Homo sapiens: one gene and its partners. The protein of the gene in region 1 interacts with the protein of each later gene in a pairwise test. Each region holds a gene or a part of one and is shown on either strand. Other genes may lie near its edges. The genes, in order: ACBD3, TBC1D22B, TBC1D22A and ERRFI1.

Region 1 (5,318 bases):
CTTAGTTCTAATATGTCCCTCAAATGAAAGATGGCATTCCCTGTACTTGTACCATTCCTAATCATAAAATGATTTGCAGCTAAAACATTTTAGCCTCACAGCAGTGAAGCTTTATCATTCCTAAGAATTGTTCATTACATGAGCGTCACTTCATCCCATTTAAAGATTTAGCTCACAAATTGTATTTGTCCATATGCCTTAGAAGCTACTGTCCTACCGTGTCTTGTATTTCATATGGTAGAAGAGTCTGAGTTTTTTGGGTTTTGGTTTGGTTTTTCTTCCTTAGGTCTTGAAAGGTAGACAGAGGAGTTTGCTTTCTCTGAAGAAGCATGGATGGTAACACATCCTCCTGTTTTAATTCTCCATTTTCTTCATTGTTTACAGGTCCTAAACCTTGGCTTAAATTCATAAAAGATGCCTTTTCATCTATCCCAGTAATCTTTAGTTTTATAGATTTAAAACAAAATTTGAGTCTTGAATCAATGGACCAGTCTATTTCTTGGATGTCAACAATAGTGTACATTTTGGATGGTTCTGTATTTCTCATTTGCATGTGAAACATGCTTAATTATAGGTATTTCTGTGGTTAAGTAAATCTGGTTTTGACCTACCTTTATAAGAGTGCCATCTGCTTTTTTAAAATAAACTTTTAATTTTAGAATAGTTTTAGATTTACAGAAAAGTTACAAAGATAGCACAAAGAGTACCCATATACCCTGCACCAAGTTCCCTCTGTTGTTAGCATCTTACATTGTACTGTGGTGCACTCATCACAGCTAATGAAACAATATTGATACATTGATTCATTAATTAACTAAAGTCCATATTTATTCAGATGTTTTTAGTTTTTACCTAATGTTCCAAGATCCTTTCCAGGATGCCACATTATAGTCAGTCATCATATCTCCTTAATCTGCTATAGACGGTGAGAATTTCTCAAACTTACCTTGTTTTAAATTCCTGATAGTGGCCATTGACAAGCATCACTCAGTGTGTTGCCAGAATTCACTCTGCCATGTTATAAACCTGAAAATCCATGCCTGTAGTCCCAGTCTCTTAAACAAACAAACAAACAAAAACAACAACCATAAACCCGAAAGTCTTGTCTTCTGTGCTGAATACTCCCTTGACCTCTTTGAGCTGGTTTGTATTAAATATGTTAAACTGTGACTTCGAAGCTGGTTCATAATTTTCTCATTCCTGTAGGTTTCTAGAGGCATTTTTTTTCCTAACCTCATAGCATTACAGTTCAAAAAACTCTTAACCGGGGCAAACCTTTCAGAGCCCATTTTTTGCCACTTAGATCATCTCTGGGTTAAATTGGCCTAGTGAAAATAATTGAATTTTCAGAGTATCTCTGAATGCCTATCTCTCTACTATGATTTTTTCATTTTACTGCTTATATTTAAGATATACAGAAAGCAATAGTCCTCACAAATCATCTTCCATCTTTCTAAAATGGGGAGGACTCATATTGGTCAGAAGGAGGATGATGAGAGCAACATTTTCATGTTACTCAGATGAGTGAAATTCCTGAGGATGAATTAGGAATTGAATGGCTATGGAAAGGGGAAAATGGGACCTTGAAATAGGAATGGTAGTAAGCACAGAAAGAGATAGGATGCTGACCACTGCTACCACTAGATGTTCATCACTGGGCTCCCAGGGCTCAGAACAGGGTTTGGTGTATAGCACATACTTAGGTATTTGAATGAATGAGTGAATGAATGAATGAATGAACGAACTAATAAATGCTCACATGCACATAACTTGTTAAATGGTTCAACAGAATTCCCAACAAGAGCAGTTTCTCAAAGAAAGGATAGGCTGGGCACGGTGGCTCACGCCTGTAATCCCAGCACTTTGGGAGGCCGAGGCAGGTGGGTCACAAGGTCAGGAGATTGAGACAATCCTGGCCAACATGGTGAAAGTCCATGTCTACTAAAAATACAAAAATTACCTGGATGTAGTGGTGCACGCCTGTAATCCCAGCTACTTGGGAAGCTGAGGCAGGAGAATCGCTTGCACCCAGGAGGTGGAGGTTGCAATGAGCTGAGATCACGCCGCTGCACTCCATCCTGGGTGACAGAGCAAGACTCTGTCTCCAGAAAAAAAAGAAAGGATAGATTTTAATTGCCTGATGCAAGTGTGGTTTTCCTGAATCTGTTCATTGACTTGTCTCTGTTCTTACAGAAAACATCGGTTGTGAAGAGAAAGCCAAAAAGAATGCCAACAAGCCTTTGCTGGATGAGATTGTGCCTGTGTACCGACGGGACTGTCATGAGGAGGTGTATGCTGGCAGCCATCAATATCCAGGGAGAGGAGTCTATCTCCTCAAGTTTGACAACTCCTACTCTTTGTGGCGGTCAAAATCAGTCTACTACAGAGTCTATTATACTAGATAAAAATGTTGTTACAAAGTCTGGAGTCTAGGGTTGGGCAGAAGATGACATTTAATTTGGAAATTTCTTTTTACTTTTGTGGAGCATTAGAGTCACAGTTTACCTTATTGATATTGGTCTGATGGTTTGTGAACTCTTGCTGGGAATCAAAATTTCCTTGAGACTCTTTAGCATTCATACTTTGGGGTTAAAGGAGATTCCTCAGACTCATCCAGCCCTTGGGTGCTGACCAGCAGAGTCACTAGTGGATGCTGAAGTTACATGAGCTACATGTTAAATATTTAAAGTCTCCAAAATAAAACACCCCAACGTTGACCTTACCCGGCTGATGGTTAGCCCCTTGCTGCCTGCTCCATGTGTCTTATGAGAGCCCGTAGTTACAGTGTCCTCTAATTTGAAATCCATAAGTTAACAAGTCTATATCAGGTGCAGCTGGCTTTGATTAAAGGCCATTTTTAAAACTTAAAAACTCAACACCTCACAGATTATAATAGAAAAAGAAATGGCCTCAGTTTGATCTCGTTCAGAATGACCCAGATTGTTTCTGCTTTGGGTGCAGCTGTTTAGTTCAGAGTTATATTACAGAGAATTATTTTCTGAGATAATCTTAAACTAGAATGTTCAAAACTAATTGATAATTGAAGTATCAAGATACGTAGAACACCTCAGAGATTTTTCTTCAGGAACTTCCACAAACTTTGAATCCTTGTATCTTTATTTGGTATTCATACTACTAGTAGCAAAATACAGGTTTTTTGTTTTGTTTTGTTTTGTTTTGGCTTCATAGAGTATCTCAAATTGAAACTTTTCTGCACAAAGAATAAAATTAAGGATTTTATAAACTCAAATTGGCACCTACTGAATTAAAATACATAAAATCATTTAAATATAATTCAGCATATGGGAAGTAACATTGCACTAATATGGAAATCACTGCCAGAGACAGTCTATTTTCTTTTAATTTGTTACTACTTAGTCACAAACCCCACATTATTCCAGTTTGGAATTACTTATTAAGGAGAATTGGAAATACATATGCCCATGCTTAAATTTTATAGCTTTAATTTGTGTTATTTCTTTATTGACGGGAAGAGGTACATCTTTTTTTCCTTACTGAAAACAAATATGGATTAATTGCCTCAAATTTGTATAAGTGATTGGCTAGTGATTCTTGTTTTCAGAAGGGAGAGTGGTATAGATAGAAAATGACAAAGATGGCAATATACACTTAATGTTGTTATTGTATGTTGTTACTGAAGTACTTAGATTTTTAAAATTTCAAATCCTAAATCACTTCTTGTAGGAGGGTTTTCATTAACTGCAGTATATACAGTTCACTACATATGGGTTGTTTGAGTTTTTTGTGTGCTGTATTTCTTTCTGTTTTTTAATACCTGGTTTTGTACATATCTAACTCTGTTCTCTTTTGGTTGTTCAGAAACTGGATTTTTTTTTTCTTAAGCAGTGCTTAATTTGTGTTTTTTAATTTTGATTCAGAAGTAGTCCCAGCTCATAGGTGTTCATACTGTTACATCCAGAACATTTGTCAGGCTCTCTGTCAGCTTTCATGTACATATGGTATAGAAACCATGGAGTTAGGCACTTCCTGGATTTTTTTTTTATGAGAAAAATACTGTATTTAAAATGTAAAATAAACTTTTAAAAAGCAGGCACTAATATATATTTCTTCCAGCCTTTGATTACAAATTTGTCCTTGCACATGTTAAGATGAATTATCTCCTAAAAATATCATTGTTCTTGGGAGCAGTGTATGTTACTTTACATAGCAGCGGTTCCTGTCATGTGTTCATGTCAGAATATTTTTGGTTTTAAACTTTCTTATTGCCTTTGGCTGTTGATTAGTACAGTACAAGTGCGATTTCAAAAAGATCTTGAAAGTAATATATTTAATCAATTAAAATGTTTATCTGTAACTTGTTGATGTTTCATTAATATAGTTACTCTCTGAAGCATTAGTACAGTATTTCAACATTTGGGTAGGAGAAAAAGAAATGTTTCAAACATCTTTTTTGTTTTAAAAGGCTCTAGTTGAAAAACAACTCTTTCTGGCCAATTATTTAGTTTTACTATTAATTACCTTAGTGAGTTAAAATAGATTTAAATTTTTCCACACTTTTAAATGCAAAGGCTAGCACTGATTTTTCTTATTGAAAATGACTAGGTTATAAAGTTGTTTCTCTACACTACCATGTATGTAGTGTGTTCCATTAAATATGTGGACCCCACACACTTTAATGGATCTCCAGAGGCAGAGCCCTCGCTTGCTCAGGGTGGATGATTGCAGAGCACTTGTGGGGAAGTGCGCGATCAGTGTGATGTGGAGTCCCAGAATGAGGTTGCTACATCCAGATGACCCCACTGATAGGCAGGGTGACTGGCATAATTTTTTTCTTTTGAAATCTGGGGAGACAGATGAGGTGACCATCTTGGTTATTTTTGCTGTGTGGGATACCATAAAGCCAGACTGAAGACGCATTAAGGAGAGCAGTTGAGGTAAGCACATCTTGGAAAGTATGCTACCGAGTCTTGACCATCTATCTTTTGGAGCAGGAGAAGCAACCGGTTCAAAATAATAAATAATTGCTAATAATTCATTAGGGCTTAAAGTTCAACAGTCAGGGGCCGGGCGCGGTGGCTCACGCCTGTAATCCCAACACTTTGGGAGGCCGAGGCGGGCAGATCACGAGGTCAGGAGATTGAGACCATCCTGGCTAACACGGTGAAACCCCATCTCTACTAAAAATACAAAAAATTAGCCAGGCGTGGTGGCGGGCACCTGTAGTCCCAGCTACTCGGGAGGCTGAAGCAGGAGAATGGTGTGAACCTGGGAGGCGGAGCTTGCAGTGAGCCAAGATCACGCCACTACACTCCAGCCTGGCTGACTGAGCGAGACTC
Region 2 (2,699 bases), on another chromosome or scaffold:
CCTACATGGCGGCCATCTTAGTTCTTTCTACTCTGGTGGAAACACACTGAACAGGCAAGCCAGGAGGACACCGGGTCTCTGGTTCTGACTCTGATGCTGTCTTCCTTGGCCTTGGCTTGGATTTTCCTCTGCGAATGAGGGGGTTAAACTAGATATCTCCAAGTTTTCATCCAGCACTGAAATTCTAGTCTGTTTTCTACCCTCTATCAGATAACATACTTCTTTTAGATGAATGAAATAATCCATGTAAAGTGCTTCTCAAAGTGGTTGGCAAGTTAACTCTTTTTAGTAGTTTCATTTACCAAGTTACTCATTTTTGTAGTTTCCACAGTACCTTTCATAGATGGATGTCGGGTAAGTGTTTGCTGGTTGATCCTCTGCTGATGCCCTGCTCACCTCACAGAAGGCCTGACCACACACCTACTAGTATCAGCAAGAAAAACTCAAAAAGAGGAGACTCTTTAGGTTCCATGGACACATACAGGAGAAAAACCAGCAGATGGAGGAGGAAATACACCATTTATTTACAATTCTTTTCACTTTATCCACAATTTCCCATACAAACATAAAAACTAAAAAAATAAAACCACCACTTGGGAACACAAGTGTCTTTCTTTAATTAGTCCGGTTGAGGGAGGGTCTCAAGCCCTCTCACTCTATGAAGGAGACCACTGAGGCACACCGAAGGGGAAAAGGAAGAGGGTTGGGAAGAATGCCTGAGAAACAGCTCCAGATGAGAAACCTAACTCACACCGATGTGGTGGGGCCTCACTGGCAAAGAGACTTGAGGGTGTTACCCACCAGGGACACTGCTCGGCTTCCCAGGAGGATGACAGCTGCTGGCCCCCATCCCCCCACCCTCCACTACCAAATACCAAAACTCAAACAGGGGTCACACATCTCATGAGCTGTGTGGGGAGTGAAGGTGACAGTAAGGGATATGGAGTGCTGCTCTCTGAGAAGAGCCCCAAACCCGAGGGACACACAAGAAGCCCCTTTCCTTGGCACTGAGTCTTCAGTCACAGCTTCTGTCCGAATACAATGCTGAACTTGAAAACGTAAAAACAAAAGCCCTCCCCAGATTCCGGGGAAGGTGGGGATAAAAACACATAGAGAGGGCTTGCCCGCCTCTGCAGTCCCTTCCTGGGGAGGCTGCTAGGAGCAAAGGGCAGATGCTCCAGGAAAGTCTGGGGGTTGGGGGGCGGGGTGAAGAAAGGGGCGAGGAGGACTCTGAGACACTGATGCTTGGGATGGCTCCAGCTGCTCAGCTACTCACTTCAGCAGCCTCCCGTTCTACCCCTCACAGCAGGACACCCAGAACCAACCTGGAGGTGCTGAAGCCACCTTCCTGGCAACTTCCTCTGTGCTAGTGACCTAGATTGCTTTCACATGTTGATGCACATTATAAATATAAAATCATATCTGCTACAAAGAGGACATATATTTGTACATCTTTACCCATATACATAATAACACAATTTACACATAATATCTTGGAGTGGGTCATCATGGAAAAGGGGTCTGGAGAGCCCCTTCTGCCTCCCCTGCCCCAATCCCTCTTCAAGGGATGCTTATACACTTGGTCACTGGGGCCCTTCCCAACTAGTTTGATGGGGCTCGTCTGGACACAGAAATTCAGACATGTGACTAAATGCTGATGGGCATGTATACACATTCACACCCACACACACATGCAGACACCTGGTGAGAAAAGGAAAAATAAAATTCCTAGCCCTTGGGTGTAGGCCTCTTTCCAGAGTTACAAGCATCAGTGCCTCCTCCATCTAGAATAATGGTTTTAAAAAGCTACCCCTCACTGGCTCAGACTGGGGCAGAAGGGGAACGGCTAGGAAACCAGGAAGAGGGAAGAGGGGCCAGGAGTCTTTCGAAAATATAAGGCGTTTTTGACCTGTGATCAAATCAAACTATGTTCACAAAAAAAAAAAAGCAACGGTTATCAGTTGGGGCCTGTCCTTGTAGGGACAATGTGAGGTGAGACCCTGAGCCTTCCCCTTCTTTGTCCAGTTTCTTTTAAAGGGGCAGACAACCCTGTACCACCTTTTCTGTCCTCTCCCAGAACTGGGCCCATCCACGCGGCATGGAATACTGACAGTGGTCCAAGTGACACATCCAGAGACATGGAGTGGTGGATGCCAGAAAGTTAAGACCTGGGCGGTGGGTGTGAGCTTTGTACAACAGGAGTGGTTCCTGGCCGGGGTCCACGGCTCGCACAGTGGCCACAGTGATCAGACTGCCATCAGAGATGAAGGCAGTCTGGGTCCCCGGAGGAGACAGCACCTATCGGCGGTAGTGATTTGGGGCATCGGCAAACATGTACTTGAGTCTGTATGCCTCGGCGAGAAGCAGCCCAATTTCTTCGTTGCCCCAGTGTATTGTAGGTAGGTTCTGTAGCAGCATGAGGAGACCCTGGAATGCAAGAAAGGACTTTTATATCATACCAGACCGTAGACCATCAGACAAGTGAACCCATTCTTAGAGACCAAGGCCTAGAATGGGGCCCCTTCCTCCTGGCTCACACATCTCAAAGAGTCCAGCCTCCTTCCTCCCAAACAGTACACAGCTTTCAGTCCTAGTTCACCTCAGGAGGTCTTGAAAGCCTCTGCTGATTCTCTAGTCCACTAACACCTGTCTCTTTAAAAACATAAAAAACATAAATAGGGAATGACAACAATAAAGAT
Region 3 (8,137 bases), on another chromosome or scaffold:
AGACCATCCTGGCTAACATGGTGAAAACCTGTCTCTACTAAAAATACAAAAAATTAGCCGGGCGTGGTGGCGGGCGCCTGTAGTCCCAGCTACTTGGGAGGCCAAGGTAGGAGAATGGCGTGAACCTGGGAGGTGGTGCTTGCAGTGAGCCAAGATTGCGCCACTGCACTCCAGCCTGGGTGACAGAGTGAGACGCCGTCCCAAAAAAAAAAAGAATACAGAGGGTGGAGGTATGACAGCTGCAGCAGCTAGGTCAGCTTTGAGCCCCTGCCAGAGTCAAGAACCCTTGCAGAACTCTGGCTGCTGGGTTTGTGCAAAGCCTCCTGGCAGTCTTAGGAAACTCAGCAGAAATTGGTGAGGTGTTTAAGTGTGCTCTCCTGGAATTGGTAAGCAATGTATAGTGCTCCCTTCCCGGGGACTGATACTAGTTCACAGTATTTCTGCTCTCTAGCATCCTGACTAGAGGTAAGCACATGATCCCAGGGGCCCAACAGAGGCATCCTGTGACCTCAAGGGGAAGTTGTCCTTGGCAAAGACTTAAGAGACTGACAGAAGGAGACAGGCCCCTTGGGTCATTGTTGAGCTGCTGTATCAGCCCTTCTCCAAACCTTCTGAGCTACTTCTGGGCTTTTTCATTAACCAACTAATTCCCTTTGTAGTATAAGCTAATTTGAGCTGAACTTTGTCATTCTTGCAACCAACAGCACCCTAACTCATCCTGACTTAGTGTCAGGAAATGGCACGTTGCTAGTCCCTGTAATATAAAAATGGCTGAAAGGAGTTGGGGAAGGGGGCAGTGAAGACGACGCCTGCCTCTCGCGGTGTGAAACTGGGGACCTTTGCTATATGCCGTCTATTATTGTGGTAGGCTGAATAATGAACCCCTGAAGATATACCAGGACTTAATCCTGGGACCTGCAAATGTTACCTTAAATGGCCAAAGGGAGTTTGCAGGTGTGATTGAGCTAAGGGCCGGGTGATGGGGAGATCAGCCTGGACCGGATTATCCAGTGGGCCTGACGTGAGGTCAGAGGGATCTAGGAGGAATCGGAAGGAGAGAAGATGATGTGATGATGGCAGTAGAGATTAGAGTGATCTGCTTTCCAGACAGAGGAAGGAGTGTCGGCCAAGGAATGTTAAGTGGCCTCTAGAAGCTGAAAAAGGTAAGAAACTGACTCTCCCCTAGAACCTCCAGAAGGGGGCAGCCTTGCTGACGCTTTGAGTTTAGTGCAGTGAAGTGCTAAGACTTTGGACTTCTGACCTCCAGGATTGTAGGAGGGTAAATGTGTATTGTTTTCAGCCGCTAAGTCTGCAGCATTCTGCCAACAGCAGCCTTAGGAAACCAATACAGATAGAACAGTCAGCTTTTTACTTTGGGGCACAGGCTCGGTGCCTATGGACGGTACAGCACCAGGAAACTTAGGAGGCAGAACCCACCAAGTGGGAGTGTGGCAGCTCACTCAGTAAGGTCCTGTGAGAGATATTCTAAGCCCGGAGCAGGCCATCTGAAAGCAAAGAAAGCAGAAAACACTTCCCGAGGAACCCAAATGGCATTGCAAATCCAGCCATCCTGAAATACTATCCCAATTTTTTTTTGTTTGTTTTTTTGAGGCAGGGTCTCACTGTTTTCTAGGCTGGAGTGCAGTTGTGTGATCCTAGCTCACTGCTGCCTTGAACTTCTGGGCTCAAGTGATCCTCCTGCCTCAGTCTCCTAAGTAGCTAGGACTAAGAGTGTTTACCACCATGACTGGCTAAAAGAAAAAAAAAAAAGTTTCACAGAGATGGGGTCTCCCTATGTTGCCCAGGCTAGTGTTGATCTCCTGGTCTCAAGTGATCCTCTCGCCTCAGCCTCCCAAAGTACTGGTATTATAGGTGTGAGCCACTGTGCCTGGCCTGCTGCACTTTTGTTTGCCTTATCATGTAGTTCAATGTAGCTCAGTGCATAGCACAGTTCAAACTCAATAACTATATTTTAATGTATTATGAAACATTTTATACATGTAAAAACTCATAAAGAATATAACCAACACCTGAATATAGCCCATCTGCCTTAGGAAACAAAGCATAATAGCACAATTGATCCGCTATGAATGAATTCCTTCCTGTTCACAGTCCCCACCTGTACCTATAGGCAACCACCCTCCTGAATTTATCTTTTACCATTCTGGTTTTTTTTTTTTTTTTTTGAGATAGGGTTTGGCACTATCGCCAAGGCTGGAGTGCAGTGACATGATCACAGCTTGCTGCAGCCTCAAACTCCTGGGCTCAAGGGATCCTCCTGCCTCAGCCTCCTAAAGTGCTGCGATTACAGGCATGAGCCACCATACCTGGTCGCATTCTCATCCTTTAAAAGAAAATAGTACTAAATGGTATCATACCATGTGAATTAATATTCAACTTTTTCTCATTCAACACTGTGGAGTCAGGTGCGGTAGTGCTTGCATCTGTACTCAGCTACTCAGGAGGCTGAGGTGGATCACTTGAGCCCAGGATTTTGTGGCCAGCCGGGGGAACATAGTAAGCCCCATTTCAAAAACAACCCCACAGTTTGCAAAATTCATTTATGTTGATGTATGCAACTAATGTATTCATTTTTACTAACTTATGGTATTCTACTGCATAACTGTGTAGATTATCGATTCTGCCATAGATGGCATTTTGGTTGCTTCTCCCCCAGACCCCAACTACCACTAGAAGCAACGTTGCACTGAACATTCTTGTGTTTGCACGCATAGGCAAGGTACTCTAGAGCACATACCAAGAGTGGAATTGCTAAGTTATAGAGTATCTTTGCTAGAAATTGCTAAGTGGCCATCCAAAGTTAGTGAATGAACGTACACTCCTACTGGCAGTGCAAGAGAGTTCTGCTCTGCTCACAAATCCACATCCTTATTAAGTTTGGTAAAGACAGGTTTTTAAGTTTTTGCCAATCTGTTAAGTGTAACATGGTATGTCCTTAGTTTTAATTTGCATTGCTGCTCAATACTTGTTGCAAAAATGAATAAAAAATGTTCCATTCCATACCTCTGGGATTTGAGAATCTGTCCCAATTCCTAGGTCCCATATGTAGACTCCAACATCTGTATTACTTTGGCTTTCAAAACTGGCCTTCTACTCAGACTTTCTTTTTCCATCTTCACGTTTCTGTTGTGATCCTAGTAATCCTTTGCTTAGCTGGTTTTGAAGCCTTCAAGTCAATCTCAGCCTCACTCCTTCGCCTGAAAACAGTAGCTAGCAAAGTATACGGTAAGCTATAAAAAGCACCCGGATCTAAGGTGTAACCAGTCACTAAGTGCTGCCAGTTTTTCCTCTGTCAATTGTTTCAGTTCTTCCTTCCTTTCCCCTTCCATCAGGTTAATCCTGCTGTCACCTCGCTCACTGGTTCTTGCAATAAGCCAGACTGAGCTGGAAAGAACCGCCATGGTCCTCAGTGTTGTCTGTAGGGGACCTCACTGTCTGAGGCTGTCAGGGCTCTGTCAGGAGGAGACCCCTGGGGCCTTCTGAGCCCTACTAGGAGAGGATTCTAGGAGAGTAGGACGCCTTGCACATAGTAAGTACTAAGTCAATGTTACTTACCAGTAAATGAAGAGGCATGGGAAATTGTTATTATTTTTGAGACGGAGTTTCGCTCTGTCGCCCAGCCTGGAGTGCAGTGGCACGATCTGGGCTCACTGCAAGCTCTGCCTCACGGGTTCACGCTATTCTCCTGCCTCAGCCTCCAGGGAAATTCTTAATCAGAAAATATGTCTTAGATTTTTGTTTTAAAAGAGAACTGGCAGGAGCTCCAAATACACTAAAGCTCCAGTCTGAAATGACAGTCCCTGAGCATTCAATCTTTGGTCTAAGAAGCACAGAAATGTAATGCAAACCAGACACGGTTTTTTTAGTGATTTTCTGCACACACACACACACACACACACACACACAGTAAAAAGATCTAGTCATAACGTGTGCACCTGCAGTTCCAACTACTGGGGAGGGTGAGGCAGGAGGATCACTAGAGGGCAGGAGTTCGAGACTAGCCTGGGCAACATAGCAAGACACCCACCCCCAGTCCCCCCCGGAAAAAAAGAATAAAAAAGGTAAAAATAATTTTAAAAAGAGTAAAAGGAATGTAAAAATAATTTTAATGCATTTTATTTAATCCAATACATTAAAAATGTTACCTAACATGCAAACAATATACAAATTATTTTATACGACGTCTTTGGAATCCTGTATTTTACACGTAAAGCGCATCTCACTCCGGACTAGCCAGGTTTCAAGCACGTGATAGCCGCACAAGGCTGGAACCCAGGCCTGGGGAATTAATTCTTGTCCTCGGTGCTCAAACCATTCTTCCCTTCAAGCCTGGCCTAATCCCCAGTCTCTCTCATCTCTTCGAATACGCTCCGCGGTTATGCCCCTCACCTCACTGCACTGCAAATATTTCGTCCACTGAGTATTTGCTGATCGTCACTCAGTGCCGGGTGACCCAGCTTGACCAGCACCCGCAGCCGCCCTGCCACTGTTGGGCCGGGTATGGTGTGTCTGGCTTCCCTCTGTTCTGGGCCGGCTCCGAAACGCGCTCAAGAGAAATCGGAATCAGACACGGGGCAGTTCAGCTTTGGAAATGAGGAGCTCGAGGCTCCTGGGAGTCCGTTGCGGGCAGGTGGGCGCCGCTGTTGTGTCGGGAGAGCCAGGAGCGACAGACTCAAACTCAGAAACCCAACCACCTCCGCTCCCTCCGCGATGCGTGTAACGTGCGTTGCGCGGCGTCGCCCTTTAATAACGACGGGCGCTCGGAGTGCTGCGTCACTCGCCACCAGGGACTTAGGCGGGACTTCCGGGCGCGCGTAGGCACAACTTCCGGAAGGAGGCGGAAGAGCTTCTCGGCTCTAGGCTCTGGAGTCCCGGGAGCAGTGAGGGGCCACCCGGGGCACAGGAAAGGGCCGCTAGGGGAGGGCCGGGTGCACTCGGGGTGTCTGGGCCGCGGGTCTGAGGGATGAGGAGGGGCCATGGCCAGCGACGGGGCCAGGAAGCAATTCTGGAAGCGCAGCAACAGCAAGCTCCCGGGCAGGTGGGTGTGCCGCGGAGGGCCAGGTCGGGGTCAGGGGTCAGAGGTCAGGTGGCCGCGTTGGCCTCCTGGGCTGCGGGTGGAGTCGGGGGTCTGGAGAGGGCAACTTGGACTCTGAGGAGACTGCTGGATGGTGTGACGGGCGTTGGGGGGCTCGGAGGTCGGAGCGTGGGGTCTGGGGGTGACAGTGGCTGCACGTAGGATCGAGGCTTGCAAGGACGAGGAGGAGCTATTGGCGTTTTTCCTGACACTGGCAGGCTTCTTTCCGAGAAACTCCTGGGCTCCTTGGGGAGGCTGGAAGGAACTGATTCGGGTCATGCTGTGAAGTTTGGTGGAGTCCGGAAGCTGGCCGGGCTGAGGCCCCCCGTCTGCTGGGTGGATCAGTTTCTGCAGGGGGTGTGGTGTTTTTGACCCACTTGATTTGCCTGTGGTCTCTTGAGGGCTGCGGCTCTTGCCTTGAGCATAGAAGAGGACTAGAGTTTCCCTGTGAGTTTCCATGTTTCTGCTTGCTGGTGTCAAAACCACCTCCTATGTTGTGTTAGCAGGAAGTTTTTTTTTTTTTTTTTTTTTTTTTTTTTTTTTTCTTCGGCTGGAATGACCTGGGTACACCCTAGATGCTATACAGCTCCAGAGCTCCAGAGTCCTTGTCTGATTGCTGTGGCGCTGAGCTATGCCAGGGCCCTAGGGAATGAGACATTACGTGGAGGGTACCTAGGATAAAATCAGCCACTGGTGAAAACAGATCAGAGATAAGCAAACGTCAAGATTTCAGAACATAGTTCTGTTCCAAAGCTGAAGTCTGGAATGCTGAAAATTATGAATTGTGTTACGAAGATAAGTCTGAGTAGAATCATTCATAAACACAGTAAAATGGTTTGTACTCCTGTTTCATAATAAATATTATTGTTTGAGTGTTTGAATGATAAACTTTGGAATTTACTGCATCCAGTTAGAAAAGTTTACTTTTGGCCAGGTGTGGCGGCTCACGCCTGTAATCCCAGCACTTTGGGAGGTCGAGGTGGACAGATCACCTGAGGTCAGGAGTTTGAGACCAGCCTCACCAACATGGAGAAACCTAGTCTCTACTAAAAATACAAAATTAGCTGGGCATGGTGGCACATGCCTGTAATCCTGGCTACTTGGGAGGCTGAGGCAGGAGAATCACTTGAACCTGGGAGGTGGAGGTTGCAGTGAGCCGAGATCGTTCCATTGCACTCCATCCTGGGCAATAAGAGCGAAACTCTGTCTCAAAAAAAAAAAGGAAAGTTTACTTTTAAGAGTGATCTGGGGGTTAGCAGCGTGAGTTACTGACAGCTCAGACAGTGGCTTTGAGAATGAAGGGAGTCATCAAAGGTGGCCGGAGACCCTATTCGACTCCACAGGACCGTGCTTGATTCGAGAACAGTAAGACCTTTCAACAAAACCAGTGTCAGGGTCCAAGGTGAGTGAAGATTCTGGAATGGTGGTGGGTAGGAGGTCCTGGTAGTGACAGGAACAAATGCTGTAGAACATAAGAGTCCAGGGAAGAGGAGCCACATGACAGTGTAACTTTTATGTGTTACTTTTAGGTCTTAAGGTTTTGGTTCCTCATCAGTCTAAACTCTAATTCTTAATCAGCTTAGATGTAAGAATAACAGAGCTGCTGTGTGGAGTTACAGCAGTGACTCAACCTTTGGATTGAAGGCTGTGGCTCTTGGTAATTTGTCCTTATACTGAGTTGAATTTATGTCCATCTGGAAACTATGGATGTGACATTTGGAAATAGGGTTTTTGCACAAGTAATCAAGGTAAAATGAGGTCATACTGGATGAGGGTGGGCCTTAGTTCGTCAACTAGTATTTTTATAAAAAGAGGGAAATTTGAATACAGAGAGACACACACAGGGAAATGGCCCTATGGAGACAGAAACAGAGATTGGAATAGTACATTTACAAGCCAAGGAAAGCCAGGGGTTGCTGGCAGCCACCAGAAGCTAGAAGAGGCAAGGAAGGATGCTCACCTAGAGACTTGACAGAGAGCATGGCCCTGCAGATGACCACTTGATTTTGGGTTTTTGGCGTTTAAAACTGAGAGAGAATAAGTGTCTGTTGTGTTAAGCCATTCAGTTGGTGGTAATTTGTTATGGCAGCCACAGGAGACTAATACAGTCTCCAGCTTTCTTCTGTGTGAACCTGAAATACCGAACACCAGCTTTCCTTTTCCTCTGACTTTGATGCTATTCTGTGTCTTAGGCACTTTTGAGAGCAGCTTCTGTATTACCTTTGTGAAGTTGGAGTCTTGGAGAGTTCGAGGCTGTCACTGAAGAGGGCAGAAGAAGAAGGAGAGGTTGGGTGCACCAGGAAGGCCTGTGAAGCCTCTGTGTCTCCCATCCGTCTTGTGGCTCAAGCCTCTGGCAGTGCTGCTCTTTCAGGTGGCAGGCTGGAACTCTTCCCTGAAGGAGGAGTCACAGAGGGGTGCCCGTTTTCCTATCAGTAGTGGTGATTGGTCACTAGCTGCGTATTTATTTAGTCCACACCTATGCAAGCACAGTGCTAGTGGAGATCCTAGCCAGGTTCCTGTGGCTTTGGCAGCTCTTTCAATTGTTTCCCATGATTGTTTTCTTTCTTTTTTTGTTTTTGTTTTTGTTTTTGTTTTTTTTGAGATGGAGTCTCACTGTGTTGCCCAGGCTGGAGTGCAGTGGTGTGATCTTGGCTCACTGCAACCTCTGCCTCCCAGGTTCAAGTGATTCTCCTGTCTCAGCCTCCCAAGTAGCTGGGATTACAGGCGCCCACCAGCACGCCTGTCTGTTTTTTTGTATTTTTAGTAGAGATGGGGTTTCGCCATGTCGGCCAGGCTAGTCTCGAACTCCTGACCTCAGGTGATCCATCCACCTCAGCCTCCCAAAGTGCTGGGATTATAGGCGTGAGCCTCCATGCCTGGCCTTGTTTTCCTCCTTTTTTTTTTTTTTTTTCTGAGACAAGAGTCTCTCTCTGTAGTCCAGGCTGGAGTGCAGTGGCATGATCTCAGCTCACTGCTACCTCCACCTCCTGGGTCCCGGTTGAAGCAGTTCTCCTGCCTCAGCCTCCTGAGTAGATGGGATTA
Region 4 (7,755 bases), about 220 Mb from region 1:
AGGATTCTCAGATTTCAAGTCTTTGTTGATACTGTAGTCCAATTCCTCACACCATAAAATTGGGCAATATTACGAAAAGACCACTCTTCCAGGTCTCAATGAATGTGTCTTTAAAATGTGGGGCTTTTGGCCGGGCTCAGTGGCTCAGGCCTGTAATCTCAGCACTTTGGGAGGCCAAGGCGGGCAGATGGCTTGAGCCCAAGAGTATGAGACCAACCTGGGCAACATGGTGAAACCCTGTCACTACAAAAAAACACAAAAATTAGCTGGGTATGGTGGCACACGTCTGTAGTCCCAGCTACTCAGGAGGCTGAGGTGGGAGGATTGCTTGAGCCTGGGAGGCAGAGGTTGCAGTAAGCCAAGATCACACGACTGCACTACAGCCTGGTGACAGAGTGAGACTCTGTCTTTAAAAAATAAACAAACAAAAAAATGTGGGGCTTTGGCTACAGAAATGGAGCCCTTTTCAACTTGGAAACAATAGGAAGGTAAGGATTGGAAGACATTATCCAAAAGCTCTTATTCAATACCCCAGATGTGAAACTGGACTAGTTACAGATTGTTTTTTAAACAACTATTCGCTCAGTAGAATTGTCTTCTGACTCTTATCAGGGCTGCCTCTTTTTCAGCCTTTAGATTTCCATTTAAAAGTCACCTACTCAGAGAGGCCTTCCCAAACCACCTGTGTAAATATATGCTCCTCTGCCTCCTTATCCTATTGCTGCTGTACCCTGCTTGTTTCCTTGGAAGGTATCGCCATCTAAAATTGTTTGCTTGCTTGGCTATTCTCTTCCTCCCTCATTAGATGGAAGGCTTCTTCAGGCAGCAGCCATCTCTATTTTTCACCTCACATGGTGTCTAATCCAGAATAAGCACTTGATAAATATTTGTGAAAAGAATTAATCCTTGCCCTCTAAGAATTTTTGAGCTGAATGAGCACTATGAGTTGAGTTTCTGTTCCTGCCTCTGCTATTGACTAGCACTTAGGTCTTGAGCATTTAACTTAACAGCCTTTTGCTTCAGTTTCTCCATTTATAAACAAGAATGTTACAAGGAGAAATGAGGTTGTTGCCTAAAATGAAGATACTATAGAGTGGAGAGGTAGTGAAAGTGTGGGGAAAATGCTGGATTATAGTACAGAAGAGCCATGATCGCCCTTTTGCTTATAGCAAGATATTTAACCTCACTTTGTTTCCTCATCTGCAAAATGGAGATTCTAATCCCTGCCTCTTCTTACAGGGATGTTGTGGGGATCAAGTGAGATAATGTGTAAGAAGGTGCTTTGTAACTTGTTGAGTGCTTTACAAATATAAGGTATGCTATTGTTAAATTCCGGATTTTACAATACAGTGTGATTATAATGCCATCATTGGGATCCATGCTGTGAAAGCATGTTAAAAGGAGGCCCGTTGGGTATATGTAGTAACCGCTTATTACGAGTAAAAACAGACTTGTGTTATATGAAATAACCATGTTGTAAAGAGTTCTGTTGTGGTGGGGCATCCGTGGATCGTTAAAGACTGAGGGCTTCAAAATAGTTGTTTGAAGTGGTAATAGAATGTCAAATTGATGCCTTAACCCACCCATTTTAGAGGATACATAGGCCAGATCTACAATTAATAACTTTTAATAGGAGAATTTGAGGGAGTTGAAGTGAAACAGGAACTTTCATAGGCTACAGGTTACCCAAGAAAAACTATTACCAGTAAATCCATAAAAAAGGATCTGTGCTACCCTTACAAGTTGAGCAGTATAGTCAGTCGGATCCTACTTCGCCAGTTTAAAAAGCCGTAGGGACAGGAAGAGGCAGTGTGGTGTGTTGGTGAAGGGCCTGGACACTGAGGCCGGGCTGTCTAGTTGAAGTCCTGGCCCCATTGCTCACCAGTTTTGACCTTGAGCAAGTTCTTTAACTCTGTGCCTCAAGTAAGTGAGAGTAATAATAGTAGCCCACCTTATGGCATTGTAGAGAGGATTAAATGAGTTCATACACATAAAGCACTTAGAACCATGCTTGCCTGGCAGTTGTATGTCCAGTGAATGTTAGTTATCATTAATGGTTTTATATTAATTGTAACAATCTAGAGTTACCCATCGGGTAACTTAAATGCTTGTTAAATAAATTTGAAGTTTTAAAGACTTGCGTCCCATCATTAGACCATTGTGCTCGTTGTCTTTAGATTAGAATTCACTTTTATAGTAAGAAATAATCTATTGTTATATGTCAAAAAGAAATAATATTTTTCTCCCCTCTGTGTGTATATATAGTTACTGATTGTGCTACTCTGTAGGAGAAATACAAAGGACAAAAGAATGTATTCCTGCTATCCTACTTTTCTGCTGTCACACTAAAATTGTGTGGGAGGCTTAAGTGAGTTGAAAGACTGGATTATGGTAGTTGAGGGAATGGGTTTTTTGTTAGTTTACCATTTTTTAAAATACTTAGCTAGAAAGCATTCTGAATTATTGAATAAATTACGTCATTTATTTTTTATTTGACAGTTTGAAGATAAATTATTTTCTCTGTTGCCTCTATTTCACCACCTACAAATGGTCCATTATGTTCTGGACATGTTTAAGAGCCTCTGAGGAATGGAGCTGCAAACACAGACACAAATGTTCATCTTTGCCACACTGAACTATATTTTAATGTTTACTGAAGCCATCAAGCTTTTCTTGAATTCATGCAGGAGTATTTTAATTACATTAAAACATGGCATTATTTTAAAAGTAATCTATGTTTTTAATTTAAAGGCTACTTATGCTTACCATGGTAGAGAGTACAACTAAGGAAGTTTTCTTAACTTGCCTCCCTCTTTCTTTTCCTACCCCTACCTAAATCATAGGCTATTAAAATGAAATCTGGGCCGGGCGTGGTATCTCACGCCTGTAATCTCAGCACTTTGGGAGGCCGAGGCAGGAGGATCACCTGAGGTCAGGAGTTTGAGACCAGCCTGACCAATGTGGAGAAACCCCATCTCTACTAAAAATACAAAAATTAGCCTGGCGAGTTGGTGCATGCCTGTAATCCCAGCTACTCGGGAGGCTGAGGCAGGACAATCGCTTGAACCTGGGAGGTGGAGATTGTGCTGTGCACCATTGCACTCCAGCCTGGGTGACAAGAGTAAGACTCCGTCTCAAAAAAAAAAAAAAAAAATTGGTGTTTTTTTGTTTGTTTGTTTGTTTTAATTTCCTCACAGGTGATTATTTTAGACATTTTAAAAAATAAACATGCAGAGATTGGTATATTTGGGGAGGATCTAAAATCATGGAGTTTGTCATATTCCTAAATCAGTTTCCTTTTATAAATTTTGCCTTTAAATGTAGTTACCTTATTATCTTCCTTGGTTATGGAAGTACTTAATGTAGGTGATTCTTAAATGGAACTGAAAAGACCATTTATCACCCTGAATAAACAGAAATCAGGTTCTAGAACCAGATTGAAAGGAGGAAATTACATCACACTCTTAAATAAGGAAGCACTGGGCAGAACTGGATGAGTTGTATGACAAAAATGTGCCCCTCCTCCTCCCATGGATGGCTTCTGAGATTTATTAATGAGATCTGGTGGCCAGGTAAGCATATCTAGGTTACTGCCTTAAGGTAGCCTGCATTTTTCTTTTTTTTTTTTTTTTAAGCAGTTTCAAAGAGACTGTCCTCAAGCTAAAGGCATATGATTTCACCTTAATGAAGAAGGTGCAGTGTGCTTTTGGTGTAACTTTTTTAGAAAAATGAAAGTCACCTTAAATTCAGCAGCAAAAACACAGTCTAGAAGGAATAGTGTTTTAAGAGAAGGCAAAACACTGTTTTAAGAAAGTACCCCCCCAATTGCTTCAAGTAAATATACTGTAACAGAAACCAGTTTAGAAAGCTACACTGTTAACCACTGAAGCTTATAATTTTTACTCAGTCTACAAACTGTCTTCTTTGAATTCTGGAAATGAATTTCATAAAAATTCCTTCCTGTTACATATCCTAAGGTTGTTACATTATTATTGGGCAGTCGCCTCACTCCAGCACGCATTAACTTTATCCTTTATAAATCTGCTTCTCCCCTGAGCTCTTCACTGACTCACAGTGTATGTGAATCTTTCATGTCATTACTTTTTAAAAATGAGATGGATATTTTCTCAGTATCCATTTAATAAATAATAGACATGAATGATGCCAAGATCTACAGGGGGAAAGCATAAATCAGACATCAGTTCTGTCCTAGATGATTTGAAGAGTGGAAGGGGAATTGGGGCCCAGCACAAAATAACACAAGAACAGAGCACCGCTGCTCCAGTGTTTCATGAAAGGGAGCGGCTTCATGGAGAAGGCAGGGTAGAGCTGACCTTAAAGGATGAATCGAATTGTAACAGAGATTTGGGGAAAATAGAAGCGCGCTTGAAAATATAGATTAGGTTTATATTGTGGAGGCCCTAAATTGCCAGGCTGAGGAGGTTTTATTTAGGAGCCTTTGAAGGTTTTTTGAGCAGCAGCAAATCTTAGCTTGAGCTGTTGTTAAGGAATATTGACTTGGTACTAGTGTTGTAGAATAGGTTGCATATTGCCAGACCCCAGGAAGAATGATGCCTGTCAATGGAAGGGTAAGATTTGAGAAACCATGTAAAAGTAGTCTGTGGAACTTGGCAATTGAATGTACATGGCCTCAGGTTAAAAATGGTGCCTTGAGAAGTGTGATCCTCTTAGACCCTGAACTGGTTTGGGGAGTGGGGAATGGAGTATGAAGTGAAAGGAGGAGTTTGGTTTGTAGAGTTTGAGATGCCAGAGGGCCATCCAAGTGGAAAGATAATCACCAGACAATAGGAAATGCAAAGTTGAAGCTTGAGCCAGGCTGGAGTCATTGATTCAGGAGCTGTCTATGAGTTGAAGCTATACAAGTGGATTAATAAAAGGATAACCTCAAGAAGCAAATGATTTTAGGGCTTCTTTTTTCGTTGAATTTAGAAAAGAATCAAGTTAACAGGAAAAGGTGGTTCACATCTGAAATTTGGTATTTAACTGCATTTTAGACCCACTAAAAAAGCTAAAAATAGTTGATGAAGTTTGGAGAAGTTATGCTGAAGGTTATTTGGGTCCCCGTCTAAACCATGCTGTCTGGATTCACATTCGCTTTCCTATTCTTGGATTCCATAACATAATCCCATCTTGTACTTTTTAGATACTGATTTCCCCACATAGGTACATTTTTGCAATTGTTTTCCTCTAATGAGTTGTAAGACAGATAAAATGTGAAAAATTGGCATTAAACATCACTTGGGAAGAGTTTGTTTCTTTTTAGCTTGAGGTTGGTAAAATGGATTTATTTACTCCGCGCCCCCCCCCCCCCCGCCCCCCGCTTCCATTTGTGCTGAATACTAGAAGGTTTTTAGAGAGAGAGAAAGTTTCAGGTGGTTTCATACCCTCAGTTTACAATCTGAGAAACATTTTTTTTAAAAGCTTCCTTCCAAACCTATAGCACATTGCCCTTTTTGAGTCTACAGTTTGAAGTTATTTTCCAAAAGAAGAGAACATGGCAGTTATATTGCCCCCCTCGTCTCCCATGCTAGCAAGTAGGAAGTTCGGACAGTTTCATAACATGGCCCATTCACAATTCCCCATTGAAATTTAGAGGCAGGTCACCTTCTATGAATACACAAAGACACTATTGTGGTCAGAAGTGAGCTGGCTTAGTGAACACAATTCTTTTTATACTAAAAAAATTTTTTTCTTAAGAAAGCTAACAAGTAGGTGATGGAAACAATGAATAAAAAATAACTTTTTCTAGAACATATAAATAATTTTAAGTGACCATTGAAATGTAAGTTTAGAATTCCAAGGCAATTTCTGCAGAGGCGATAGTTACACAATCATTCTGTTGAAAGCTAAGATTTAGATGGCATTAGGAGGCTGACACACAGTAATTACTAGTAGTACTTGTTGGCTTGCAGACAGGTGGGGGTTGGGCCTGCAGAATCCCCTGCAGCATTTTCCTGTAATCTGGATGAGCGATCTTCAAACGTGTGCTTTCAAACTACTTAAATACCATATTCTTCCTATCTTGCCTTTCATTTTTATATTACCACAGATACTTTCCTCATAGTCTTGCCAGTGCTTGTAGAATGCTTAGAAAAAGCTTGATAAACCACTGGGCTAAGTACACAGAGGGAGAGGCTAGCAGTATTTTTAAATTGGTTTCTAAATTTTTTATAGCTTGATGGTAGATAACACATTTGCTTCATTGAAGTAATCTGAAAAACCAATCCTCAAAAGACCTCTCAATTAGAATTCTTAAATGACAATGTTTTCTTTATCATATATTTGAGAGATTGATTTAAAGAAAAATAATGCTTGACTATCTGAAATAATATTTTAACCCTATCATAAAATCTCTGCCTGGTAGAACAGCTGACTGTGGAAGGGTAAAATGCAGAGAACCAGTCATTGGATCTCCCTTCTCTACTTTGTTACTGAAATCTTGAACCTGTAGAACATTACTTATCACTGTGTTCCTTTCTAATGGGAAAATAATAATAAACACTTGCAGAGTATTTTTTAAAAGTTTTTAGCTTTAAAAAAAAAAACCCTGTGCCTTACACAATGTGTATATTGAGTTGATACTGATTATGATAATTAGATGGTATTATACAATCATTCATTCAGCAAACATTCACTTACTGAGCACCTACTAATGTTCCAGGTACTGATTGTTAAAAGGTGATTGAGACACAGCCTCTGTCCTGAGCTTAGTCTAGTAGGAGGTGACAGATTTGTAAATAATAGATTTGAAGTTGCTGAGCAAAAAAAAAAACAAAAAAAAAAACCTGTGTACCTCTCCCCCACAGCAAATGTGTCACATTTGCACAGTGCCCAGCCTTTGCACAGTGCCCAGCACTCAGCTGTGCAGATATTATTTGCACTGATCCCTTACTAATATTTAGTGAGAGAATGAGATCGTGTTAAAGAGTGTATATGTACGTGCCCCCAAAAGGGGTCAGTGTTACACAATAGTTGACAAATAATATCCTGGTGCCTAAGGAAAAAAACCTAAACTTATAAATAAACTTGGCTATCTGAAGACAGCAGAGATTGATGCTGACTAACACATAACGAATAATAAAAAAGGAAAGTGAAAAGGGGGCTATAGGGACTCCAGACCTGTAACATCTGACAAAGGGGATTGGCGGTCCTGAAGTTGAGGAACTACTAATTTAAGAAAAATGTACTTATTTTGTTATCCATGCCTTGCAGCTAAGCAAGATATGAGTTACTGGGTGTTTCACAAAGGAGGATGTAAAGAATGTACCTTTAACTTGTCTTTAAAAGGGAGGGAGGAAGCTGTCCCAGGCTTTTACTGAAGCCAGTAATCTTGCAGAACTTGATTTTTACAGGATAATGGAAATTAGTATCTTCATATATTACTGTTTGTTCCTTGAACAAGTAGTAACTGGAGAATTTGTCTCCCCATGGCCAACCCTGAAATACAAAATCCAGATAAATGCTAGACCCTGGGGTAGTCAGGTGCCAATACTGTAGAAACTCTTGCTTAGTTTCAGCATTGTGTTTTAGTGAGTATTAGTTCTACAGCATAAAATACAGTGGCTTCTGAAATTACTTTTTTAGCTTGGGAAAAATAAGCAGGATCCACTGGTGCTTCATGCCCAGTGCAGCCGTAACTTAGAAGGCTGGTTTAATAAGTCAGGGGAGGGTCTGTGTGCATTGCCAAGTGAGTGTGATTTGTTGTGCAACTCTCAGGCTGTGCAGTAGGAGGTC

What was found.
Region 2: the proteins of ACBD3 (region 1) and TBC1D22B interact in binary tests that used the Homo sapiens proteins (3 or more experiments, as listed by UniProt).
Region 3: the proteins of ACBD3 (region 1) and TBC1D22A interact in binary tests that used the Homo sapiens proteins (3 or more experiments, as listed by UniProt).
Region 4: the proteins of ACBD3 (region 1) and ERRFI1 interact in a two-hybrid assay, tested with the Homo sapiens proteins (one study listed by BioGRID).

The regions. Positions count from the first base shown.
Region 1 is NC_000001.11:226,143,697-226,149,014, reverse strand, and holds the end of ACBD3 (Golgi resident protein GCP60), read left to right. Parts: intron 1-946; exon of another isoform or gene 947-1,012; intron 1,013-2,193; coding exon 2,194-2,405; 3' UTR 2,406-4,336; downstream 4,337-5,318. UniProt on the Homo sapiens protein: Involved in the maintenance of Golgi structure by interacting with giantin, affecting protein transport between the endoplasmic reticulum and Golgi. Involved in hormone-induced steroid biosynthesis in testicular Leydig cells.
Region 2 is NC_000006.12:37,330,772-37,333,470, reverse strand, and holds the end of TBC1D22B (TBC1 domain family member 22B), read right to left. Parts: intron 2,428-2,699; coding exon 2,299-2,427; 3' UTR 501-2,298; downstream 1-500. UniProt on the Homo sapiens protein: May act as a GTPase-activating protein for Rab family protein(s).
Region 3 is NC_000022.11:46,757,790-46,765,926, forward strand, and holds the start of TBC1D22A (TBC1 domain family member 22A), read left to right. Parts: upstream 1-4,860; 5' UTR 4,861-4,997; coding exon 4,998-5,059; intron 5,060-5,952; exon of another isoform or gene 5,953-6,497; intron 6,498-8,137. UniProt on the Homo sapiens protein: May act as a GTPase-activating protein for Rab family protein(s).
Region 4 is NC_000001.11:8,015,952-8,023,706, reverse strand, and holds part of ERRFI1 (ERBB receptor feedback inhibitor 1), read left to right. Parts: intron 1-3,633; exon of another isoform or gene 3,634-7,755.